4 linked regions of the Homo sapiens genome follow. The protein of the gene in region 3 purifies or fractionates together with the protein of the main gene of each other region. This does not show direct contact. Each region holds a gene or a part of one and is shown on either strand. Other genes may lie near its edges. The genes, in order: ACTL6A, EPC2, BRD8 and JAZF1.

The links.
Region 1: the proteins of BRD8 (region 3) and ACTL6A fractionate together in Homo sapiens (co-fractionation; 4 studies listed by BioGRID and IntAct, with this or other methods). This does not show direct contact.
Region 2: the proteins of BRD8 (region 3) and EPC2 purify together in Homo sapiens (affinity purification with mass spectrometry; 2 studies listed by BioGRID and IntAct, with this or other methods). This does not show direct contact.
Region 4: the proteins of BRD8 (region 3) and JAZF1 purify together in Homo sapiens (affinity purification with mass spectrometry; 3 studies listed by BioGRID and IntAct, with this or other methods). This does not show direct contact.

What each region holds. Positions count from the first base shown.
Region 1 is NC_000003.12:179,572,920-179,579,954, reverse strand, and holds part of ACTL6A (actin-like protein 6A), read right to left. Parts: intron 6,587-7,035; coding exon 6,486-6,586; intron 5,586-6,485; coding exon 5,488-5,585; intron 3,739-5,487; coding exon 3,644-3,738; intron 3,336-3,643; coding exon 3,229-3,335; intron 3,194-3,228; exon of another isoform or gene 3,132-3,193; coding exon 3,042-3,131; intron 1-3,041.
Region 2 is NC_000002.12:148,647,722-148,654,756, forward strand, and holds part of EPC2 (enhancer of polycomb homolog 2), read left to right. Parts: intron 1-7,035. UniProt on the Homo sapiens protein: May play a role in transcription or DNA repair.
Region 3 is NC_000005.10:138,147,603-138,154,637, forward strand, and holds part of BRD8 (bromodomain-containing protein 8), read right to left. Parts: intron 5,159-7,035; coding exon 4,880-5,158; intron 3,407-4,879; coding exon 3,143-3,406; intron 2,196-3,142; coding exon 2,038-2,195; intron 1-2,037. UniProt on the Homo sapiens protein: May act as a coactivator during transcriptional activation by hormone-activated nuclear receptors (NR). Isoform 2 stimulates transcriptional activation by AR/DHTR, ESR1/NR3A1, RXRA/NR2B1 and THRB/ERBA2.
Region 4 is NC_000007.14:27,830,056-27,834,809, reverse strand, and holds the end of JAZF1 (juxtaposed with another zinc finger protein 1), read left to right. Parts: intron 1-1,833; coding exon 1,834-2,010; 3' UTR 2,011-4,233; downstream 4,234-4,754. UniProt on the Homo sapiens protein: Acts as a transcriptional corepressor of orphan nuclear receptor NR2C2. Inhibits expression of the gluconeogenesis enzyme PCK2 through inhibition of NR2C2 activity.

The sequences.
Region 1 (7,035 bases), on a different chromosome or scaffold from region 3:
TAAAAATAAAAAATTAGCCAGGCATGGTGGCATGCACCTGTAGTCCTCCCTACTGAGGAGGCTGAGGCAGGGGGAGCCCAGGTGTTTGAGACTGCAGTGAACTACAACTGCACCACTGCACTCCAGCCTGGGTGACAGAGAGAGACCCTGTCTTTATTTATTTTTTGAGACAGAGTCTTGCTCTTGTCGTCCAGGCTGGAATGCAGTGGCACAATCTTGGCTCAATGCAACCTCCATCTCCCATGTTCAAGCAATTCTCCTGCCTCAGCCTCCCAAGTAGCTGGGATTACAGGTGCTCAGCACCAAACCCAGCTAATTTTTGTATTTTTAGTAGAGATGGGGTCTCACCATGTTGGCCAGGATAGTCTTGAACTCCTTGCCTCAAGTGATCCACTGCCTTGGCCTCCCAAAGTGCTGGCATTACAGGCATGAGCCACCGTGCCCAGCCAACCCTGTCTTTAAAATGTGTGTGTGTGTGTGTGTGTGTGTGTGTGTGTGTATATGATATAAATAAAATAATTTTTAAAAAACCTGTTAGATATGATCCCTCTCATAGTAAATTATGACTCATATAATTTTACTCTTAGTTTCTTTTGCTGGATACACATTAATTTCTATCAACAGAGTAAGCAAACAACCTACAGAATAGGAGAAAATATTTGCAAACTATGTATCTAACAAAGGTCTAATACCTAGCTTCTATAAGGAACAACAACAACAAAAAGCCTCATTAAAAAGTGGGCAAAGGACACTAATAGACACTTCAAAAGAAAACATACATGCGGCCAACAGCATATGAAAAAAAGCTCAATATCACTGACCATCAGATAAATGAAAATCAAAACCCCAATGATACACCATCTCACACCAGTCAGAATGGCTATTATTTATTATTAAAAAGTGAAAAAATAGGGCCGGGCACAGTGGCTCACGCCTGTAATCCCAGCACTTTGGGAGGCTGAGGCGGGTGGATCACAAGGTCAAGGGTTAGAGACCAGCCTGGCCAACTAAGAATACAAAAATTAGCCAGGTGTGGTGGCACACACCTGTAGTCCCAGCTACTCAGGAGGCTGAGGTAGGAGAATTGCTTGAACCCAGGAGATGGAGGTTGCAGTGAGCCGAGACTGCACCACTGCGCTCCAGCCTGGGTGACAAAGCAAGACTCTGTCTTGAAAAAATTAAATAAATAACAGATGCTGCTGACACGGCTGCAGAGAAAAGCGAACGTTTATTCACTTTTGGTGAGAATGTAAATTAGTTCAACCATTGTTGAAAGCCATGTGGCAATTCCTCAAAGAGCTAAAAACAGAACTACCATTTGTTTTTTTTTCTTTTTTGAGATGGGTTCTCACTCGTTACCCAGGCTAGAAGGCACTGGTACAATCACAGCTCACTGCAGCCTCGACCTCACAGGGCTCAGGTGATTCTCCCACCTCAGTCTCCCAAGTAGCTGGGACTAAAGGTGCACACCCCCACACTTAGCTAATTTTTCTTTTTCTTTGAAATGGAGTCTCACTCTGTCGCCCAGGCAGGAGCGCAGTGGCACCGTGTTGGCTCACTGCAACATCCATCTCCTGGGTTCAAGCAATTCTCCTGCCTCAGCCTCCCAAGTAGCTGGGATTACAGGCACCCACCACCACACCCAGCTAATTTTTTTATATTTTTAGAGACAGGGCTTCACCATGTTGGCCAGGCTGGTCTCCAACTCCTGACCTCAGGTGATCCACCCGCCTCGGCCTCCCCAAGTGCTGGGATTACAGGCGTGAGCCACTGCACCCGGCCCCACTTAGCTAATTTTTCTGTTTTTGTAGAGACAGGGTTTTGCCATGTTTCCCAGGCTGGTCTCTAACTCCTGAGCTCAAGGGATCCACCCACCTCAGCCTCTCAAATTACAGGCGTGAGCCACCATGCCTGGCCCAGAACTACCACTTGACCTGGCAATCTCATTACTGGGTATATACCCAAAGGAATATAAATCAGTTTATCATAAAGACACATGTATGTGTATGTACACTGCACCACTATTCACAATAGCAAAGACATGGAATCAACTTAAATGCCCGTCGGTGGAAGACTGGATTAAGAAAATGTGGTACATACAGACCACAGAATATTATGTAGTGAAAAAAAAAAAAAAAGAATGAGATCATGTCCTTTGAAGGAACAGGGATGGAGCTGGAGGCCATTATCCTCAGCAAACTAATGCAGGAACAGAAAACCAAATACAGCACGTTCTCACTTACAAGTGAGAGCTAGATGATGAGAACACATGGACACAAAGAAGGGAACAACAGACAGTTGGACCTCCCTGAGGGACGAGGGAATGGAGCAGAAAAAATAACTATTGGGTACTAGGCTTAGTACCTGGGGGACAATAATCTGTACAACAAACTTCCGTGACATGAGTTTACCCATTTAACAAACCTGCACATGTACCCCTGAACCTAAAGTAACAGTTTTTTTTTGTTTTTTTTTTAAGAAATTAAGGCGTATCTGTGGCATCAGGTTGTTTTACTAACCTCTTCCCCATCAGTAAGCCATATGTTCAGAGATGGGTTTTTAGTAAAGAGAATCTCTCATGGGTTCCTTGTTCTGAACAAAAACACATTTTTGATATTGCTGACTGATGCTGGGAAACAGAACATAACTGAGACATACTAGTAGGCCTCTACAAAACCTAAAACCATTTTCTCAGCCAAAAATGTTCAGAATAGCATAAAACCAAAATTCCTTCCAGGTCTCACCATAGTAATCCAAGTGAGTATGTAGTAATTTGTAGAGATTTGTTTGGCAAGTATGAAAAGCATGCCTCTCACAGAAAAGCTCTTTTGTTAGTAAAATATCATTAAAAATATAGAGTGTGACCCTGAGATCATGTTCTATTTAATCTTCAAAATGTATTTAGTAATAAAAAAAATAAAGAGCTTGAAAATATAAAGTGCCCATATTTTACTCAAGGATTTACAGCCTATATATAACTTTTTTTAATACTCATGCAAAAAGCCTGTAACATTTTTGTAAAGAGAATGAGGGTTACTTACATTACACATATAATTGTGCCAAGACCTCGTAACCTGAGGCAACTTCTCTTTTCTTTTCCAGTTTGCTGGAGATCCTTCACGAACAGCTTCCTGAGAGTACCAAGAGATGCTAGGTTAATGGAGTTCACTTCATAGGGGTGGGGGAGCTAGAAGTAAGTTCTACAAAGAAAATTCAATAATTACTTACTTTTGATGCAATCATATATGGAGGAACCAATTCAATATTCATTTCTTGGAAGAGTTCTCTGCACTGCATAGTAATAAAGTCTCCAGCAAGAGGGGATTTCACAATGCCTATGAAACAGATGAAACAAGGCTAAGAGGGCAGTAAGTCCAAACTTCCTTGAACGAATTTCCTCTGTGGGTGTATTTATGTGAATAACTTTTTCAGGTAGAATGAACTGAACTATCCTTCAACACATAAATAAAGCCATGCATCAGTTTTAAATATACATTATATACTAAAGATTTTTAACATACTTAAAAAAAATCTTATTCAGAAACTGATATGCTTTAATAGTGCTACTCATCATTTTATTTCATTATGTGCATCCTCATGGCATCTAAAATCATCTCAGTGTATCCTGGTTAAATACATTTACCTTGTTGAAGGACATAGCCATCGTGGACTGGAATTGCAGTGGTATGAGTGGCTCCACTGTCCAAAATCAGCCCAGTAGAACGACCATTAGCAAATCTAGTTTAAAACATTAAGGAAAAGAAAGTATCAAGGCCGCTAAAATAATGTTTATTGTAAAGGGCAGGCTCTTATAATGTTTCAGAAACTATTTCTTAAACATGTACCTTATAGTTAAAAATGTATTACAGTGAATCTAGGGATAAAAATTGGTATAAAATAATATTTCTGGCTTAAAAACAAATAGTAAGAGGCAGGAATTCCAGAATGGAGGTATCAGGCACTCAGGGAAACCTTTATCCTAGGAACAGCTACTATTAAGCTGGTCAAAATTAACACAATCACTAAAAGTCTCTGGAGACTGATCAAAGAGCTTACAACAAACTGAGATGCATTTATTTAACAAAATATACAGAAACTTGGTAAGAACAGTGGGAGGTTGTGATAATTGAGCTAGGGACTATAACCATTCTCACATAGCATTGAAAAAGAGCTGTTTCAGCAGTTTGGCAGCCATATGGCAGTTCCTATCTCCTCCAACTCAATGAGCGGGAAAACTATTCCAGGTGAATTCCACAGTTGGTAAATATTGGCAGATCCCATTTTCCACAGTTCTGTGCTGCAGATGGCCTATACTACCTGAATATACTAAACTGATGTTTAGGAGTAGGGACATTCACTCATTCATCAAATATTTACTGAGCATCTATTAGGTGTCTACTAAGTCTGGTGCTTAATAAGGAGGGAGGGAGGAAGGAGGGAGGCTGCTCACCTGGCACTAAAATTCCTTTAACACAGTAGACACACAATGGTGCACCAAAACTGCCTTTTCCCTGAAGGTTATCCTGTTTAGTGAAGTAGATGATGAATAAAGCTGTAAAAAGAAAAGCTCAGGATGTCCCAGGGAAGATGGTGATGTAAAAGGGAAACCTATTCCTGAGATATTCAATAGTAAAATCTGGGGAAGGGAATATGGGCAAGAGTAGGAGCATGTGGGAAGACCAAGAAGCAAGAGAACACAGCGAGGTCAGAGAACTGCAAGTACCTCAGCACGGTCTGAAAGTAAAATAAAGGAAGAAATGTAGAAGACGATTCTGGCTTAAAGCAGACTAGCACTTTAGAAAGATTATTAGAGGCTGGGCACGGTGGCTCATGCCTGTAATCCCAGCACTTTGGGAGACTGAGGCAAGCATATCGCTTGAGTCCAGGAGTTCGAGAGCAGCCTGGGCAACATGGCGAAACTCCATCTCTACCAAATAAATAAATAAATAAAAATAGAAAGATTATTAGAGCAACAGCGTAAAGAATGGGCAGACAAGAGGACGTGCTTCAGTAATCCTGGAAATAGCTTCCACCTAATGCTGTGGCAGTAGGACAGAGAGAAGCAAATAGCAGGGAAGAACAGGCAGGATTTGATGACTGACTAAATTTGAAGGAGAATGAATTTACAGCCAATTTCCAGTTTTCTATGATATTGGAAGGGAAGGAGATTTTAAAATGGCAATCTTTCAATTCACCTAAGCCAACTGGTTAAAACATTGCCTTCTATCCACATGCCCCTTCTTAAAAACAAAAACAAAAACGTCTTAACACTCAGAATTTGAGTGTTATTTTATTTCCCTCATACCTTCTGGTGTATCATCAGTTCTAACAAGAAATACTAAAAGATGAATAGCTAAAAAGCAAGAGAAAAGGGAAAAAAACAACTTCGGAACAAGCAATAATTGGCGTATGTCTTCTCCCAGAGTTATCATATTCATTAGTATCGTACATACTTCAAGAGGAAAGGTATTACTCTTTCAAGGATACGCTGTCAAAACTGCAGTTTTGCAAAGGAAGAAGGCAGGGATGTTGTAGTGTTCAAACATTAACTCTGTCAGTTTCTCTCTCTTTGCTCTAGTATTCCACTTGAGAAGAGGGGAAAAAGAAATGCAAGTTATTAAGAATTAAAAAGTTGATTTATCTCCAGATAAAATCTAGCACTATATTAACAAAGATATAAAACATTAAGAACAGAATAAAATACCATGGGAAATCATCTTTCATAATATCTCATAAAAATAAAAAAACCTCTATAATATTTATTTCTTTAGATGTAGATTAAATTTAATAAATCTATCAGAGAAGAATTAAAATTCTTTAATAATAAAATTGCTCCTGACTTTTCCACATATGAGGAAACCAGGATTCTTATAAACATATTATTAAATCTAAAGAGTAAATATGGTAATCCAAATCCTAAGTATGAATTTTAGACCACCAAATTCTCCCACTTATAGTTGGTATTCATAAAAGAATACTGTAAGTTAGTAACAATAAGATACTGATAATTTATGACCATTATGCTTGCTTTCTGGGACCTTTTTGTCTATGTACCAAATGTATTTCACAAGAGACTTTGGTCCAGAAATTTCCAGCCCTTGTTCAACATCTCAATTCTTTCTTGGAAACTTGAATAAAAGTAGATATACGCTGCCCTTGGGGCACAAGAAATGATTCATAATTCAAAATGGGAAGCAGTCCTAGGAAATAAAATGTTAAACAAATCCCTAGAAATACATAAATAACCACAAGAATCCATTAGGGTGTTTTGTTGTTCTCTGGATATTTTATTTATTGGAATAGTAAAATAAAAGTTATAATAGTGTTAAAAAATTAATCCTTTTCCCTAATTTTCAAATTCAAAATATGAATTTCTATGCCTCTTTAAAGAAAAATGTTCATCAAATGAGTAGAAAACTAAAGGAAAAAAAAAAGAAAAAAAAAAAACAACTAGAGAAACGTGAAAAAGAAAATCTTTATCTCACCGGTGCCTCTGACATGAGAACAGGATGGAGACTGGCTTCTGATTTGACATGCATTTTGTAGGTATGATCCAAAATAGCTTGGAAACTATCCCAGTCTTCAACTAGAATATAAGATTAGTAACTTGGAAATAATGCATAGTTGAAGATGAATATAGCATCTTTTGAGAAATTGTTTCTATGACTTAACAATTAATACTTTAGTATACAGAACCTACTGATTTTACAGATCAACTTCATACCACATTACTTTATATAGAGATTACCTTTGCCTTCTAGATATATAGAACTTCTTTTTGGTCCCTCCAGCCCCCAGACCTGTCCCAAATGTAATTAATCTAACAGACCTAAAATATGAAGTAAATGTTATTCAATTCAATAAATACTTATTAGAGGCCCAGAATGTGATCAGAATGATAATAGGAAGTACAGAAGAATTGTATGGCCTTCTGATGATACTACTGCTGGATTTATAAAAAAAAAAAAAAAAGAAAGAATTGTATGGTCTAGACCCGACACTCAAAAAAACTTACAATCTATTTGGAAAAAGACT
Region 2 (7,035 bases), on a different chromosome or scaffold from region 3:
TCCCGGGTTCAAGTGATTCTCCTGCCTCAGCCTCTCAAGTAGTTGGGACTACAGGCACGTGCCACTATGCCCAGCTAATTTTTGTATTTTTAGTAGAGACGAGGTTTCACCGTGTTGGCCAAAATGATTTCGATCTCTTGACTCTTGCTCCACCTGCCTCGGCCTCCCGAAGTGCTGGGATTGCAGGCGTGAGCCACCGTGCCCTGCCGCGCCTTGCAATTTTTTTATTAGCTCTTTTAGAAAGAATTATTTTCAAACTAGAGCATGAGTGCTAAACTTGGATACTTTTCAGTAGCCTACTTCAATTGCCCAATTTTAAGGAAGAAGAAATCCAAATTCTGATAAAACTAGAGTTGAAACCCAGAACCTCTGATTCTTTGTCCTGTCCTTTCTGCCTCTTTAATACATGCTAAAAGTGGAGATTCTTAAAATCAAAATTAAGCAAACCGTAACAGTTAAGATTTATAGTCTGAAATCTTTTGCTTCCCAGAGTGTCCAATTGGAGTATTAGTTTTTCTTTTTCTTTCTTTTTTAAATATGTATGTCAGAAGACTTGTGTTTTCATGAGTGACAGCAAATTCATTTCTCTGGTCTTACAGGACTTCTGTTATTAAACAGAATTATGTATTTATAAAAATGGTTCTGCCTTGATAAATATTTCTAAGCAGCAGTAAAATGTCATACATTTCACAAATGTTTTGTGTTTCACTTGAATTGCATTTTAAGTAACTTTCAATATCTAGATGTCCTTAACTCCTTATTTTTATAAGATTTTTTTCTTTTAAATCAGTAGGCTTGTAACAAACAAACCAACCTTGGCTTACGGATTCACAATTGTTGCTGGGTGTCTCTGAACTGTGCTGTCCTGCTTGGTTGGCAAAATCTTTTGAAGCCTTCATGGATGGCTTTTTCCCATTCCCCCTCTATCCCCACCCACCCTTAAAATTAAGGCCTGTCTCTTCTGTGTAGCTATTGGACTATCATTAGACTTCGTTTATATAAACAAAGTCATTATTCAAGTTCGAGTTACATTCTGACTGAGTTACATTCTGACAATGCCTGGATGAGGTGATTTAGGTGTTCTTGGGCATTGGTAACATTGTATCATTGATAATCATGTCATCCTGTGTAGCCTCTTCTTTTGGACATCCAAACATCTTTTACTTCTTTTCTTCCCTATCCTTATTATCATTGTCCTCTGCTAAGAGCTGCCAGTTGGCATCCTCCTTTAACTTGGTCTTTGTAATGCTCCTCACGGCACTTGGTCTAGGTCAAGTACTGTACACTTATGTTTATTTAGAATTTAGACCAGAAAGATCAGGCAGCCAGCGGTTCTGCCGCCTCCCCATGAGTGTTGTATAGTGGTAGTTGATGTTTTTACTAATACTTGCCATTTACTGAATACTTCATATATCCGAGATACTGTGTTAAGGGCTTTACATATATTATTTCATTTAATCCTTTTTTTAAATAAACTTTTTTTGAAGTATACTTTACATACAAAAAAAGTACCTATATACAGTGTGGAGTTTGATGAATTTTGACAAATGCATACAAACATGAAAACAAGATATAGAACATTTCCAACATTGGAGAAGTTCCCTTGTGCTCCTTTGCAACCAGTCCCTTTCCACTCCTAGTCCAAGCAATTGTTGATTTGTTTTGTTTTACTGTAGATTAGGTTGCCTTTTCTACAATTTCATATAAATGGAATCATACATACTTTTTTATGTCTAGCTTCCTTTGTTCCGTACGATGCATTTAAGATTCATCCTTGTTGTATGAGTCTGTTCCTTTATATTGCTGAGTAGTATTCCAGTGAATTTGGTATGCTATCTTTATGCATCTCTCTGATTTTTTAGTTGTTTCCAGTTTTTGATTATCATTTAATTCTGGTAACAGCCCTGTGAGGTATTACCATTTCTGTTTTATAGAGGAAAAGCTGAAAGGTCTTGCTGCTAGTGCAGGGCTGAAATTCAGACCCTTGACATTGGTGTCACAAAAGCATATACTCATAGTCACCATGCTGCATATTCAGGGTTCTTACAGAATCCAGAGTTATCTTCTGAACTGTGATTAAGTTCATTATAGCTTTTGTAAATAATATTTTACTTTTTATAACTTTGGAAACCTTAGAAGTTGCCAATTTGGTTAGACTGTTAAATTATTAAGAAGTGTAGTTTTTTCATTACTTAATTTGGTCTGACTTTTGCTCTTGGGTTTTCAGATTTTCTTTCTTTTTTCTTAGCAGTTTGTGAACTTTGCTTTCCCCTGTATTGGCACCATTATATTTATCCCACTGTTTATGTTATCTTAAGCATATAAGAAATTTGTGGGAAACTGTCCCATTTTATTGTTTAGATTTTTCTCCTGCTAGGATATAATGTCTCTAAGGGCAAAGATCTTTGCTTATTTTGCTCATTAATATATTCCAAGTGCCTGGAACTGTGCCTGGCACATAATACATGCTTGCAAAATGTTTGTTGAGTGTTGAATGGGCTTCTATTTCTTTTTCTGTTCCAAGAGCTATATTTGTGTCTTTTCTCCCCCTCCCCCAATATCTATCTATATATAAAATTTATTAGCAGCATTTGATAAAGTCTTCTTCCAGGAATTCTTTTTGGTTGCTTACTTTGGTACTATGTATATCTAAATATTATATCCTCTTTTCCTCTTGAGTCAGAGGCCTCTTTAAATATAGAATCTTTTCACACGCCGATATGGTTGTAATGATAAATCTTTATCTTGTTTTAAGTAACTCTCATAGGTGTGTGTAGATTTCTGTGAGATACTTTTTCATACCAGAATGTACCAGTCTACATGAATCATGTGATTCACCTTATTTTTAAAGAAGATCCATGACTAATTTGAATTGCCATATCTCCTCTCATATGTTGTCTAATTTTTGCCGTTATGTTAATATTTTAAGTGATATTTTGAATTGATACAGTAGGAATATAATCCTGATTGATACCTTTTCAGAATTACTATTGGCACTAATATATTTCATGTTTCATAATGGAGAGGGTATAAAATGCAGTTTTGTAAGTTGATACTGTAAAAACATGAAGCATTTCTTCTTCTAACAAAAGCAAATGACATGCCAGGTATTATCTAAATGCCAGTTGTTATCTAAATAAGATATTGGGAAACTAAAGTGTTCTGTATAGGAAAAGTATGTGTAAGGCCGTGTACTGAAATGTTAGGAATAAAAGAAGATGCAGACTTCAATTTCATAGAACTTAAATGAACCATTAAGTCCAAAAACATGTATCTGGAAAGTTAGCAAAAACTACAGGGTTAAGACAACCTGACAGACATCAAAAGAGCATTAGAGAAAGTTAAATGTTAGTGTAGTTGAGAGGCATGAGGTGATTCATTGCATGTCATAAAGAAGGCTTCTTGGAGAGAGGCGTAACAATTTGGGCTTTCAGGTTTGGTTGTATGGTGTATGTTGAAGCAAATATTTGAGCATAAGAATATCTAAAGGAAGTTCTGAGGATGCTGAGTAGACCAAAGGAAGGTTCTTCCATGTTAGATGCTTTCTGTCAATCATTTCCTATTCTTCCTGCTAATAGAAACTTTAGGAGGATAGCACTCTGATGTTGCTGACCATATCATTCCCCTGTTTTCGTTCGGACATGCAGACATCTTTTGCTTCTGTCTTCCCCTTCATTTTATCCCTGTTACATCTTCAGCACTAAAAACCGTTTAAAACATAGAAGCACTCAGTAAATATTTGGTGAATGAAGGAGTAAAAATAGGGGTGGAGATTAGGTTGGAAAAAAGGTAGAATTAGACTAAATTATAGGCAGTTTTGAATGTTAGGCCTAGGAGTTTGTAGGGTGGTATAGATGAAAGACCACTGAAGTATGATTCTGGAGTTTTTGTTTCTAGTTCTGGTTGTCATGGATTAACCCATTTATGCCTAAGTGGGTTAAATGGCCATATAATTTGGAAGTTGCTTAGCTTTTCTGAGCCTCAGGTTGTTCATCACTACTATCTCAGCTAACATTTGAGTGTGTGTTGTTGAGTGTTTGAGCATGTGCCAGGCACTTTGTTAAACTTAATAGATGGTTTAGAGTTGATTTTAAGAGTAGGACATATAGGTGTTACTACTTCTTTTTCAGAGGAAGAAACTGAAACTTTAGAAATTAAGTAACTCGCCTAAGATCATCCGTCTAAAAAAGAACATGCTAGAGCCAGAATTTGCACTCAGGCTGATTGACTCTGGGGCTCTTGCTTCACCGTTGTACTGCTTCATCTGTAAAATGAATGGGTTGAGAACTAGAAGATATCTAAGGTCCTTTATAGCTTTACTGTTCTATCATTTATTTTCCCATTTAAAGTTCAAAATTCCAGATTCTTGAGATAGAGAGCGTTATTGGTCTGGCTTGCATCAGGTATCTACCTCTGAGTCTGCCATTCAAAGAGAAGGGGAAGTTAGTATACCTATGTTGAGAAGTGTTACCCTCTCAGCTGGAGAGCTGCCCTGAGAGATCTGCTACCGATGGTAATATAGCATGATCAAAAGTTAGGAAGTTAAAGTGTTAAATCATTTTAATCCATGATTTGTCCCAAGGTGAATTTGTATACTTAGTGTGTTTTTACAAACCATAAATTTGTAAGATGTTTTAATGAGCTTAGAATAATTTGTATGTGTTATGTTTTAAATGAAATTTGAATCAAAGACTGTAAAAGAAGTCTCCAGTGTCCTTTTAAAAAAAAGCAAACTCTTCACACTTATTAATTTTCAAAGTTGTAAGGGATGAGTTTTGTTTGACCGCGTAGAAATTATTTAACCTTCCTGGCCCTTAGTTTTCTCATTTGTGAAATAGAATTGGACTGAGTGACCTTTAAAGTACCTTTGACTCTAAAAATTACTTGAACCTCTGAAACCGCATGTCTATCTACTGGCATATTGTCCAGGATTATAATTAGATGAAAAGAACTAACAAATGTGACATTAAATATTGGGAAGAAATTAATGCTTAAGGTTTAACTCTTTAATACTGCTGAGATCCTGTCAATTTGGCTTATCGTTCTTTTATGAGGATCGATTATATTCGTCCTCTATCTAATATTAATTTTTCCTAGAGCCTAGTAGAGCAATCCATTCTGTGTATGTTTTGGTTATGATCATCTTGCTTTCATGAAATTTTCTTCACTTTACTAGGCTTACTCATTGCTGTAAGTATTCTGAAGTTCAGTAGTACTTTTAGTCTTTACCACTTGAGTTTATTTTAATTTTCTAGTATCATTTTTCTCACTTGAGTGTGTGTGTAATGGTGTGTGTGTGAATTTTATATATGTATGAAAAAGAGCATGTGCACGAGAGAGAGTAGACACTTATTTCCCCAACAAGACTAAATGTCTTGAGGGAAGGTATCATGTGTGTTTTATTCAGTACCCAAGACAGGCAGGATAGCAATCCAGGTACTTCTGTCACTTTCTGTCTTAAGTGATAAAAAGTTTGTAATACAGGCACTTAGCATGTTGCTGGTCACTTGGATTGAGTTTCGTTGTATTGGTAAACAATGCAGCTCTGCATCTTCATTTAGTTTTAAGTAGAGTTGAAGTAGAAAAACAGTAATGGGTGTGTAGAGACAGCATGAGGAGGAGAGGCTGATAGGAATAAGCCCTGAAGGAGACCAATGCAGATGGCAGAAGGTCCATCATGATTATTTGATTTTAACTTAAAGTTGATCATCGATTATTTGCCTTGTCTATACTATTTAAATGGGACAGAGCTTTAAATTTACATATTCTATCATGCAGAACCGCTTCTTACAGGGTTAACACTGTGGAGGAAGATGCCAGTCACTTCCAGTTTCTCCTCAGCAGTTTCATTGTATCTGTCTTCTTTTAGGTTTTTTGTTTTACTGTAAGCAGCTGTTGCTATAAAGTCAGAGGAATGCAGACTGGAGAGTCAGCCTATCTGCTACCTCTCTTAACTCCTATCTTTGCTTCCCTGCTTGCTTGCTTTTTTTTTTTTAAATGGGCTAAGGACGTGTCTCATGTCTTGGTTGGGGAGTCAACAAGCAGCATTCAGTTTTGCTGCTAATTTGGTGAAGTTGTTGGAACTTTGAAATTGTGATTTAGGTTCCAATCCTGGCCTCTGCCACTTGCCTTATGGGTGAGGTAAATTACTTAACCTCATTGAGCCCCATTTCCTCATCTGTTTAATAAGTATCTGAAAAGTTAGTTTTAAAGATTACTTTTTTTTTTGTTTTTTTTTTTTTTGGAGACAGGGTCTTGCTCTGTCACCCAGGCTGGAGTGCAATGGCGCGATCTTGGCTCACTGCAACCTCTGCCTCCCTGGTTCAAGTGATTCTCCTGCCTCAGCTTCCCAAGTAGCTTGGGACTATAGGCACACGCCACCACGCCCAGCTAATCTGTGTATTTTTAGTAGAGATGGGGTTTCACCATCTTGGCCAGAATGGTCTTGATCTCTTGACCTCGTGATCTGCCTGCTTCTGCCTCCCAAAGTGCTGGGATTACAGGTGTGAGCCACCATGCCCGGCCAAGATTACATTTTTTTGTAAAAACTTAAGTCTGTGTCTTATAGGCAACACTCATTTTTTTGGTAACAATTTTCACTTATACAGGATAACAAATATGAAGGTTGATGGAAGAGTAAAATGTAGAGTATTCCCATACATTATTCTGTGATAGAGTTTCACATTTTTTCTCATGCCAATTAAACATTTTTACAGCTTGAGGCCAGGAGTTTTGAGACCAGCTTGGGCAACATAGTATGGCTTCGTGTCTACAAAAAATAAAAACATCAGCTGGGTGGAGTGGCATGTACCTGTAGTCTCAGCTACTTAGGAGGCTGAAACTGGAGGATTCCTTGAGCCCGGGAATTCAAGGCTGCAGTGAACTGTGATAGCGCCACTGCACGCCAGCCTGGATGACAGAGTGAGACTGAGGCCCTGTCTCTTAGAAACAAACAAACAAAAAGAGAGAGCGCTTTCAAACATTACAAGTTAATATGTGTGTTTTCCTCCTTCCTTCTGTTTTCTGGCACAGCAG
Region 3 (7,035 bases):
GTCACAGATAAAAACAACTTTGTTTTTCTGCTTTAAAAAGTAATTCACTTCATGCCAGATGCAGTAGTTCATGCCTATAATCCCAGGACTTTGGGAGGCCAAGGCAGGGGATCGCTTGAGTCCAGGAGTTTGAGACCAGTCTGGTCAATGTGATGAAACCCTGTCTCTAACAAAAATACAAAAAAATCAGCTGGTTGTGGTGGTGCACATCTGTGTTCCCAGCTATTCATGAGGCTGAGGTGAGAGGATCACCTGAGCCCAGGAGGCGGAGGCTGAAGTGAGCCAAGATCATGCCATTGCACTCTAACTTGGGCAACAGAGTGAGATCCTATCTCAAAAAAAAAAATTAATATTTTTTTGGTTTCCTGTTAAAAAAAAACAGCCCCCATTAAGATTTGAAAATGTGTTATTTAGTCCTATAATTATCTATACAAAGATGAGACAATTGCATAAACCAGGGGTGTCCAATCTTTTGGCTTCCCTGGGCCACACTGGAGGAAGAAGAAGAATTGTCTTGGACCACACATAAAATACACTAACAATAGCTGATGAGCTGGAAAAAAAAAAAAAAAAAGAAAAAAAAAAGGGAAAAAAAAAGGGTCAGTGCATAAATCTCATAATGTTTTAAGAATTTGTGTTTGGCCACATTCAAAGCTGTCCTGGGCTGCAGGCTAGGGATTAGACAAGCTTGACATAAACAATCCCCTAAGAGATGTGAAAAAGAAACAAAGATCACAAACTTCAAAATAATTTTTTTCTTCTCTTTTATTTCTTGTTTTGTTTTCTGAGACAGGGTCTTGCTCTGTCACCCAGGCTGTGTAGTGACATGATCATAGCTCACTGTAACCTTCACCTCCCAAGTTCAAGCAGTCCTCCTGCCTTGGCCTCCTGTGTAGCTAGGACTACAGGTGCATGCCCCCACACCCAATAAATTTTGTTTATTTTTTGTAAAGATGAGGTTTCACTATATTGCCCAGGCTAGTCTCAAAATCCTGAGCTCAAGCAATCCTCCTGCCTCTGCCTCCCAAAGTGCTGAGATTACAGGTGTGAGCCACTGCGCCTGGCCTAATTTTTTCTTTAAAAAAAAATTTTTTTATCCTCTTCCTTGTCTCCATCAAAATAATTTTCCATTTCAAGTTCATAAAATCTATTTTAATATTTTTAAAAGAGGTATAGTTTGGGCCAGGCACAGTGGCTCAAGCCTGTAATCCCAACACTTTAGGAGGCTGAGGTAGGAGGATCACTTGAAACCAGGAGTTCAAGACAAGCCTGGGCAATATAGCAAGGCCAGCCCTGTCTACAAAAAATAAAAAATCAGCTGGGTGTGGTGGCCCATGGCTGTATTCCCAGCTACTTGGAAGCCTGAGGTGGGAGGATCCCTTGAGTTCAGGAAGTCAAGCTGCAGTGAGTCATGATCGTGCCCATTGCACTCCAGCCTGGGTGATGGAGCTAGACCCTGTCTCTATTAAAGAAAAAAAAAGCACCATAGTTTGTATATTAGGCATAGTTTGTATAATATTAGCTCCATCACCCAGGCTGGAGTGATACAGACTTGGCTAGAGTACAGTGGCACAATCATGGCTCACTGCAGCTTGACCTCCTGGGCTCAGGTGATCCTCCCACCTCAGCTTCCGGAGTACCTGAGACTATAGACAAGTGACACCATACCTGGCTAATTTTTTTTTAATTTTTATTTTGTAGAGGCATGGTCTCCCTATGTTGCCCAGGCTGGTCTCAAAGTCCTGGGATCAAGGGATCCTCCTGCCTTGGCCTCCCAAAGTGCTGGAATTACAGGTGTGAGCCACCACACCTAGCCTTGAAAGACAGTCCTAATATTGATTAAACATATTTGTTTTATAACAGGAGAGCATATAGACTTCTATTTATATGATGTTAAAATTATACTTAATTAATTATATTTTTTGTGTTTTCCAACTCTAATTTTCTTTAACTTATAAAAGTAATCCATTTCATGATTCAAATAGGCATAAACAGAAGTACGAATCTTAACAAACTTGGATGAAAGTCTACGCTTACAGCTTTGAGGAGGTAGCATGGCTGAAAAGTGTATCCACCAAGGGAGTCTCCTTAATGTTAAAGGCATCATCACACTCGCCTGAAGGGGGCTGGTCTTCCATCTCTGACACATATACTTCACCCTGGTCCTCCCCTTTGGATTCTTGCTGAGCCTCCCCCTAGGAATGCCAGGAAACAGGAAACTTTAGAAGGAGATTTACTTTCTGCATAGTAATTTTACTTGCATAGAGTAAATGAAGGCTGCCCTTAAGGTGAGAAGAGGTCAATTACATAAAGCTACAAAAGAAATTAAAGAAAGCTGACTTAACTAGATTTAAGTTAATGAGTTCTTGGTAACAATCTTGCTGGAGGACTTTGACTCTGTGCCACTCACCTCCAGCAAAATGGAAAAGCATTATTTGCCCAATTCTCATTGGATTCTTTAAAAACCATCATGATCACCTGTGGCCCTGGAGTTAACTACTCTAGCTGGCCAGATAATTTTTTTTTTTTTTTTGAGACAGGGTCTCACTCTGTTGCCCAGGCTGGAGTGCAGTAGCATCATCATGGCTCACTGCAGCCTTGCACTCCTGGGCTCCCCCGAGACCCCTAAGTAGCTGGAACTACAGGAACATGCCACCATACCTGGCTAATTTGTTTTTTGTTTTTTGTAGAGATGGTGTCTCCCTGTATTGCCCAGACTGGTCTTGAACTCCTGAGCTCAAGAGATCCTACTGCCTCTGCCTCCCAAAGCACTGGGATTACAGGCATGAGCCATTGCACCCCACCTGCCAGATAATATTAATAATGATGACGGTATTCTAAATTTTACTGATTGCTTACTATAAGCCAGGCACTGTGCTAAGTGCTTTACATGAATTATCTCATTTAAACCTCACAGCAATCCCACAAAATAGGGTGCTATTATTGCATTTCTGCAGAGAAAACTGAAGTTCTAAAATGTTCACTAACATGCTAAAGGTAACACAGCTAAAACTGGTGCTAAATCCAGGATTTGGATCCAGGTAGTTTAACTTTCTGGAGTTAGCCTATGTGCTCTAACTACTCTGTTCTGCTTCCCTAGGCAGAAGACCAACAAGACAGCTGATTTAAGTTACTTTCTTACCTCTTCACTCTCTGTGAGTAGTCCCTGAACTGTACAAATAACTGAGGGAGCTGAAGCCACCTCTGGCTTTCCATTTTCTCCCAGTGGCTTTTCAGCTACTAAGGGGTCTCCTTTAGCTGAAAGCTCTTCAGTCTCTCTGCAGAGCTCCCTTTCTCCTTCGCTAGCTTTAATTTCCCTTCCTTCTTGTCTGGTACCAGATGGAGGGCAGCAGCCTTCACTTGATTCGTTGCTGCTGATGCACAAGGGCTCCATTAAATAAGCTACCTGCAATCAAAGTTTATTATTAGATGCACAGGAACACCACTGAAAATCATCATCCACATATCAACAATGCCACATGCTAACACTGTCACAGTGACTAAGTCTGAGAGGACAAAATGGTTTAATTAATACAATCATCTAAAATCTGCCAAAATATCTTATATACACAGGCACTGGGCTGGTTGGTGGGGACACTACAGTGAACAAGAAAGATATGGTTCTTGCCTCTTCCAGGAGTTTATGTTCTACTTTTTCATCTCAGCTGTCAACTCTGATCAATTGGGAGTGGCTGTCTAGAATAAAGTGTTGAAAATTTTGTCTACCACAGACACTTGTAGAGAGAAGTGGCAACATTTGAAATGGATGCTTGCTGATCTTGATCTAGGGTCTTCTAAATGTGTTCAATAACAGCATACATATAACTCTCTGTCCAATTCTGTTTATTTCTGGTCCTCAGCCCTTAACCAAGGTAATGACACTTAAAAATACTACCTTAAAGTTACAGCATTTTAAGCTTCAAGGAAAATTTGGGCAAGTATAACTTCCCACAACTCCAAAAGCATGAATTACAAGGATACTCATAAAGCAGTCCTTATGACCCAGGCCCCTAATGACTGAAGTATTAGAAATTCAGTCAAAAAGCATGTATTTTTTTATTTTTAATTTTTTTACTTTTGAGACGGAGTCTCGCTCTGTTACCTAGGCTGGAGTCCAATGGCACGATCTCAGCTCACTGCAACTTCCGCCTCCCGGGTTCAAGCGATTCTCCTGCCTCAGCCTCCCAGGTAGCTGGGATTACAGGCACATGCCACCAAGCCCGGCTAATTTTTTAATTTTAATTTTAATTTTAATTAATTTATTTATTTAGAGACAGAGTTTCGCTCTGTCGCCCAGGCTGGAGTGCAATGGTGTGATCTCAGCTCACTGCAACCTCCGCCTCTCAGGTTCAAGTGATTCTCCTGCCTCAGCCTCCCGAGCAGCTGGGATTACAGGCGCCCGCCACCACGCCCGGCTAATTTTTTGTATTTTTAGTAGAGATGGGGTTTCACCATGTTGGCCAGGCTGGTCTTGAACTCCTGACCTCAAGTGATCCGCCCGCCTCGGCCTCCTAAAGTGCTGGGATTACAGGCATGAGCCACTGCGCCCGGCCATTTTTGTATTTTTAGTAGAGATGGGGTTTCACCATGTTGGCCAGGCTGGTCTCGAACTCCCAACCTCAAGTGATCCACTGGCCTCAGCCTCCCAAAGTGCTGGGATTACAGGCGTGAGCCACTGCACCCGGCCCAAAAAGCATGTATTTGGTGCATATTCTGTATCAGCACCAAGTGCTGAGGACATAGCAATGAACTTAATCCCTGCCACTGTGGAGCTTATATTTTAGTAAACAATATTAAGAGTGGTAGAAGCATGTAAGGATAAGCATTCTCTTAGAAAGTTGAGGCTTTTCCAGCTTTGGAAATAAGAGCTCACTGTTACCTCAGAGAGAAAGTGGAGGAGGTTCTGGTGGCTGGCTTTCCTTGCCGCTTCCTGAGATTCCTCACTGCCTCCATCCCCAACAAGCAGTTCACTAGGTTCTCTCTCCGGGCTGCTTTCCTCTAGTTCCTCAGCCTCTGGATCCTCAGTTTCCCTCCAGTTGCCCACATCAAGATCCAGACTGGAGTCCCATGAGCTGAAGAGGGACCTGCAGTCATTGCTCAACTCAGAGTCATTGGGATGATCTTGTTCAGAATCCAGCCAAACCCACTCGTGTCCCATCTGTAAATACACAGGAAAACATGCATTAAATTCATTCAAATAAATATTCCTGAGGCATCTCCATCTCCCGAGTTCAGTAGAAAAATAAGGGGCCAGAAATTTATTTGTATTCAAGTATTCATCATTAGGAAGAATTAAAATCTTGCTGAAGGGAGACATGAGATGAAATTATATTTGTCTTTGGGAATAAAGAAAGCCCCATGTCAGTATAACAGAGATATTGCACCATACAATACAGTATAATAGAGACATTAATATTACCTAATAATTATTTTTACTTGGAATTCCTCATATTCACACCAAAAGAAGGGAAAGAACTGGAGCATAGCTAGCTCAATTATTTTCCTCTAGCCCAAATCATCCATAACTAAACCGTAAGGCAAACAAATTGAGGGGGCAGGGGATATTTTCCTCAGTGTATAAACATTTTTAACCTATGAACCATTAAACCTTCAAAACACACTTTAGGATTGCCTTTGGCATCCTTCTGGTCATATCCAAATTGATGTTGAGAAACATTAAGCTTAAAATATATCTTCCCTTGCTCTCATTACACCACTATCTTGGTTTTTTTATATCTTTCTTTGTCCTCTCCCTTTTACAACTTTCAATAAATCCCTACCTTCTATGTTCATGCTTGGTCCTCTGCTTTCTTATTAATGTATTTTAAAAAAATGTATATATACTTTGAGGTTTCAACTTTGACCTCTATTCAGGTGGCTCCCAAATCTCTCTACCTTTACTTCTTATATGAATTCTGGTGTCATTTCTCCATGCATCCAAAAGTCAATTCCCTTTAGATGCTCTACCACCTGCTGTAACATTTCTAAAATAAAAATCACATTTCCTTTATCTCCAAAATCACTGCTTCTTCCCAATTTCCTTATCCCCATCACCATTTTCTTTTCTTTTCTTTTTTTTTTTTTTTTTTTTTGAACGAACTTTCACTCTTGTTGCCCAGGCTGGAGCACAATGGCCCAATCTCGGCTCACTGCAACCTCTGCTTCCTGGGTTCAAGCAATTCTCCTGCCTCAGCCTCCTGAGTAGCTGAGATTACAGGTGCCCACCACCATGCCCGGCTAATTTTTGTATATTTATAGAGACGGGGTTTCACCATGTTGACTAGGCTGGTCTTGAACTTCTGACCTCAGGGGATCCACCCACCTTTGCCTCCCAAAGTGCTGGGATTACAGGCGTGAGCCACCACACCCGACCCCATCACCATTTTCTTAGTCTACAGAACCCACAATTCTGTTTTGACCCTTCCTTCTCTTATATTCAGTAAGCAAGTCCTCTTCCCAGTTTTCTCCCACAATAAGTTTTCTCAGTGTCCATCCTTTCCTGAATAAATGCCATAGTCTCCTAGTCAGCTTTTCTATCTTTAATCCTATCTGCTCTCAACAAATATAGTTATTCTACTCAAGGCTTTATAACAGCTATCACCTCAAATATAAATTTCTCAATCTGCCAAAGTCCTCCACAAATTTAGCCTTATTTTGTTCCCTTCACTCACATGTACACCTCCTTATTCCTTAGTATAATCCCTGTTCTAATTACATTTTTCTCCGTATTGCCACCCACCACCCCCACCAGATGCCTACACCTTCCATTCGGTTTGCTAGTCTCATTTATCACCTTCTCTACCAACTCAAAACGTATGTCCTTTAATGGACCTTTTCCACACACTTCTCCCAGCTTTTAGAGCTTGTGTTTGTATCTCATGCCTGTTTGCAGACTGCTTTGGGACTACAATGTTATTTTTTATTTTCCTTTCTTGTTTGCAACATGTCCATGTAACAAGGAATTTCATGTTCTAACTCCTGGACTAATTGAATACCTTTCCATTGCCTCACAAAGACTGTATCTTCTCTTCCTTA
Region 4 (4,754 bases), on a different chromosome or scaffold from region 3:
CGCCTGGGGTCTCATGCAGTTGCTCTAAGACACCAGTTGGGGCTAGAATCATCTGAAGGCTCACTTGGGCTGGATACACACGTTGGCCTCTTCACTCATGTGCCTGGGCCTCGGAGGGGATGGAACCGCCAGGGACTGGCAGGGCATATCTACCCATCTAACATTTCAGTGGGTCTGATTCTACCACCACCACTACCCTCCCCTTTCCTGCCCCAGTAGGCTCTGAAACCCCCAACATGCCTCTTAACAAGACTGAAGTACCTTATGTTTGAAAGGATTGATGCTGGAAGGACAGGGCTGAGGTGCAGAAGGCCTGGAGCCAGGTGTTCAGGGGAGAGTGTTTGTCCTTCTGCTTCAAATCACTGGACAACCTTCAGACTCTGAGCATAGCCAGCTGCTACTTGGCACCCCTGGGTTCAACAAAGTCCAGCAGAGTTCTCTTCCAAGGACTTTTAAAAAAGCATTCATGTGTACTGCACATCTCTAGTGTAGTAATCACCACCACGTTTATATTTAGTAGCAACCCTTCTTCCAGACTAGTGAGGCGTGAACTTGGGAAGTGCTGTTGTAACTTCATTCACTCACAAAGACTTAGCATCGACAATGTGCCAGGCACTGTGCTAGGTATTCATGAGACAACAGCAGGGAGCTGTTTTCTGGGAGCTCTTTGAAGGCATCCCATGAAGAGTGGGAACAATTTGTGTTGGAATCCTTCAGTTGGGCAAGGGACTGGCTCTAGCAGGACTGGATTTAGGTAATATTTTAGGAAACAGCTCACTCTCCTAAAATCTGTGCTTTTTGTTTCAGGCTGTCTCTTCTGTGTTCCCTTACTCTCTAATCTGGCAATTGCTGACTTGGAAATTAAGACCTATCTCAAATACCACACGTCCGCCGTCCCTTCTTAGATCTTCCACCAGTTACTTACTACCCTCAAGCCCATTTCCTCACCATTTAATTGGGATGAGGATTACTGGTGGTTAAAACTGTAGAGAGTGACTCTTACATAGAATACGGAATCTTACATAGAATATGCTGGTGAACTAGCAAAACCGACAAACAGAAATTTAGAAAGCATTTTGATAACTTTAGTATCCAGATGCTAAGAAGTCCAATCTTAGTGACTAACATTATATAACCTTAAATTTTTAAAGTTCATTGTATGTTTGGAATGTAATACTTAAGGTAAGGACTAGTCTGACTACAGGTGCTTATTAAACATGTACAACTGTACGGCGGGGACAAGATTTGGGCAACAAGTAGCTCCCACAGTGGCATCAGAGATACTGGCTTAGTGCAGAGCAGAAAACTGACAAAAACTCTGGTTAAGGCATGGTAGGGAACTGTTAACACAGTTATCTAGAAGCAAGCTGTAAATTGAGTTTCCAAATCAAAAATTTCTATATGTTAAACTTTTGGGATATGCCCTGATGTTTTTCTTTAGAAAGATATTTTGTTGGTCATGCTGAGGATATTTGTGTAGGATTGTTCACTGTTAACTTTCTTTAGAGTGGAAAAGATTCAGAGGATTTTCTTTATACAGTCTGTAAGTCCTAAATATATATTTTATATAAAATTGGAAGAAATCAGTACTTTCATTTTCAGAGTAATTGAGGCACATCTGAAATTTTGAGTCAGCTGTGTGTGTGACCATCCGTACAGCCCATGACCGACACACCAGAATGTCCTTGAAGGGTCCCAACTGGAGTCCTTGCAAAAGACTACACTCTAAACAGCTGCCATCCAGGAACTGCAATCCAGACCCAAATTGAGGTTTCCGAAGTTTGACAGGTATCCTGTGAATCCATGTAATAAATATTTTTGTCTTCTCCACAGAATGTGAATGGCATAAAGTATCACGCTAAGAATGGTCACAGAACACAGATTCGTGTCCGCAAACCATTCAAGTGTCGCTGTGGGAAGAGTTACAAGACAGCTCAGGGCCTGCGGCACCACACAATCAATTTCCATCCCCCGGTGTCGGCTGAGATTATCAGGAAGATGCAGCAATAACATGCTGGTCATAACTGTGCCAAGAAATCCTCACCAGCAGTTGCTGATTTTGAAAACAGCCACCTTTTTTCAGGGGAAGCATTCAGCAACCCTTTAAAGAAAAAGAATTAAATGCATGCTTTAAATTTTTTCTGTAATTTTGGAATGATGTATCTTTGTAGAGTTAATGATTTTGTACATTTGCACATGTAATCATCATACCCATTTTCATTACTTTGATATAAGGTGCTAAACAAAAAAAGCTCTAGGTTCTTCAGCACATTTCCCCCAAAACAAAATAAAATTGAGGGCATGTTGCATATTGTTGAATTGTATTGCGGTGGTATCAACCTGGGGGGAGGAGGGGCTGGCACTGAGATTTTTTTTTCAAGATTGTAATGTGATTGAAGTTTTCAACACATCAACTCACATATGTTCAAAACCAAAATAATACCTTCATTATCAAACTGGTTACCATGCCTTACATAATGGAGTTAGTATTTGTGAGTAGAAAGACTTTAGGTAATGGAAATATAAATAAGAAAGAATGTTTAACATAATATGCTAAAAATATTTTCATATTTAAATAACATACGTAAAGGTGTGCTTTCTGTGTTTTATATTATCTTGCAAATCCTTTTGCCCTTTAAAAAGCTGAAAATCTTGCCATCTGACTTACTAGTCATTTTAGTGTTATAAATGGCATTTTGTACAAAATAGTCTATTCAGTTCGTTCATTCATTTAACACACATTGATTGAGTGCCTGCTGGGTACAAGGGATTCAATTTATGCCTATTGATATCTGCGGACCAAGATACCCATTTAGTGAAATACTTTTTTCCCTGAAATCTGTTAGAAAAGACTTTGAAATACTTCAGTGCAAAGTGTGTGTGTGTGAAGTTTAGTTATATCTTCATCTTCAGATGAAGTTTTAAAGCACTTTGTAGTTCTCTATTGCCAACAATTTAATGTTTATGTGTTGCCAATTCTTGCAACCACTGCCCTACCAAACCTGTGGGTTGCAAATCAGAACTAAAATTCTAAGCACGTTTCAAAGATGAACACTTTTGTTAAGACCCCTATTGCCTCTTCTTCATGCTCATTTTTTACTTTTTTTAAAAGGTACTTTTCTCATCACATTGTAGAGAGGTCTGCATTCTCATTGGAAATGTCTGTTTAGCTTTATAAAACAAACACTTTGCTGAAATAGGAAAATGAGCCTTATTGACAATTAAGTGCTTCTTGCAGCAGGTGGTCAAAGAAAAGCATGACTAATACGACCTATTAGAGTAATCTACATCTGGACCATTCCTTAAGTTTTTCCTCACCGACAGTACCATCATGCCTTGAGTGTTCTTTTCTCCCAAGTGCTATTCCTTAAACACGAGAGTTTACCAGTTGCCTAATAATGCAATAAAAAATGCTTTGAGATAGCTAACTGCCCATAAAACAAACTCAAATTGCTTATAAAGTTTCTTCCCATGTTCCCATTTGATGAAAAGTCTTACATCACATATAACTGGGAAGCAGGGGTCCCTCCTCAATTTTCAGACATTTTGAAAGGATGACAGTTCTGTTTGTTAGATGAGTAAACCTCTATATTCATAAGTTCTAAAATCCTTCATTATGAGGGATTCAAAGTATTTATAAAAACACTGCCCTCTAAAAATTTCCTCAGATCTGAAGTATGGTCTTGGTCCTGAATATACAGTGTTATCCTATGTTTAAAAGGGTGATCCAGACATGAGACGCAACTAGTTGGTGCATAAGAAGGCCCCACTTGGCTATTTCATATCTACCTACAATTGACCAAAAAAAATTTTTTAGGCCAGCAATTATTATTTAGCTTCGCTCTTTCTAGTGCAAGAAACTGCAGGCTGGATCAGTAGTTCAACAGCTAAACAGTCATAAAATAGTCATTGTGCATGTTAAATTTCTTTCAATGCTTTCAAAGATAAATTCCAATTTCTATTTACTTATTCATTGTGACAGTATTACTAAACAGGTAAGGATGGGAATATTTTGTTATACTGTGTATAGTGAATGTATTGTACTGTGTCTGTGAAAACTGTGCTTTAAATTATATTTTCATATGTTTTGTTGGGGACAGAGCACATTAAGTCTGAAAGCAACAGAGGTTTGTTTTAGAACTGAAGGCAATTTAATCAAAATTCCTGTCAAGAAAAGCTGCTTATAAATGTAAATGAAATCACATTTAAAATAAACTGCCTCTGACCCAAAAATAAATATGGCTCTTTATTTTCCTTAGTGTCCATTATGAAAACCAGTATCAAGTTTACCATGGAAATTAATATATCCATTCAGTTCCTCATTCTAAGGCTGTTCAGTTGATGCATGTAGACTTTATTCCCTTACATTTTTGCTTAGATTAGATTAGGCTGTATTACTTTTCTGTCAATAACAAATTAAGCTTGGACTTACTTACTTAAACTATTTTAAAATAAGTTCTAGGCTAGTAAGATGAACAGTGTCTACTACTATAATAAATATTCCAAGGATACTTTTGGATTAACATGGTCCATAATTATTAACTCCAACAAAAATGCTCCCATTGTTGAACATATTTTACCTAAGTATATAACCTATCTGGAAGCTGAAAGTCTCCAAAGCTATTGCTTCCTAGGACTGCTGTGTCCTAACAGCTGGCATATGAATGCCTCATACTGGTTTGCCCTAGACTCAAAAAACTTTTTAAAGGATTCTAACAATATACAAACTCTGCTTCCACAAACAAATACAAGTG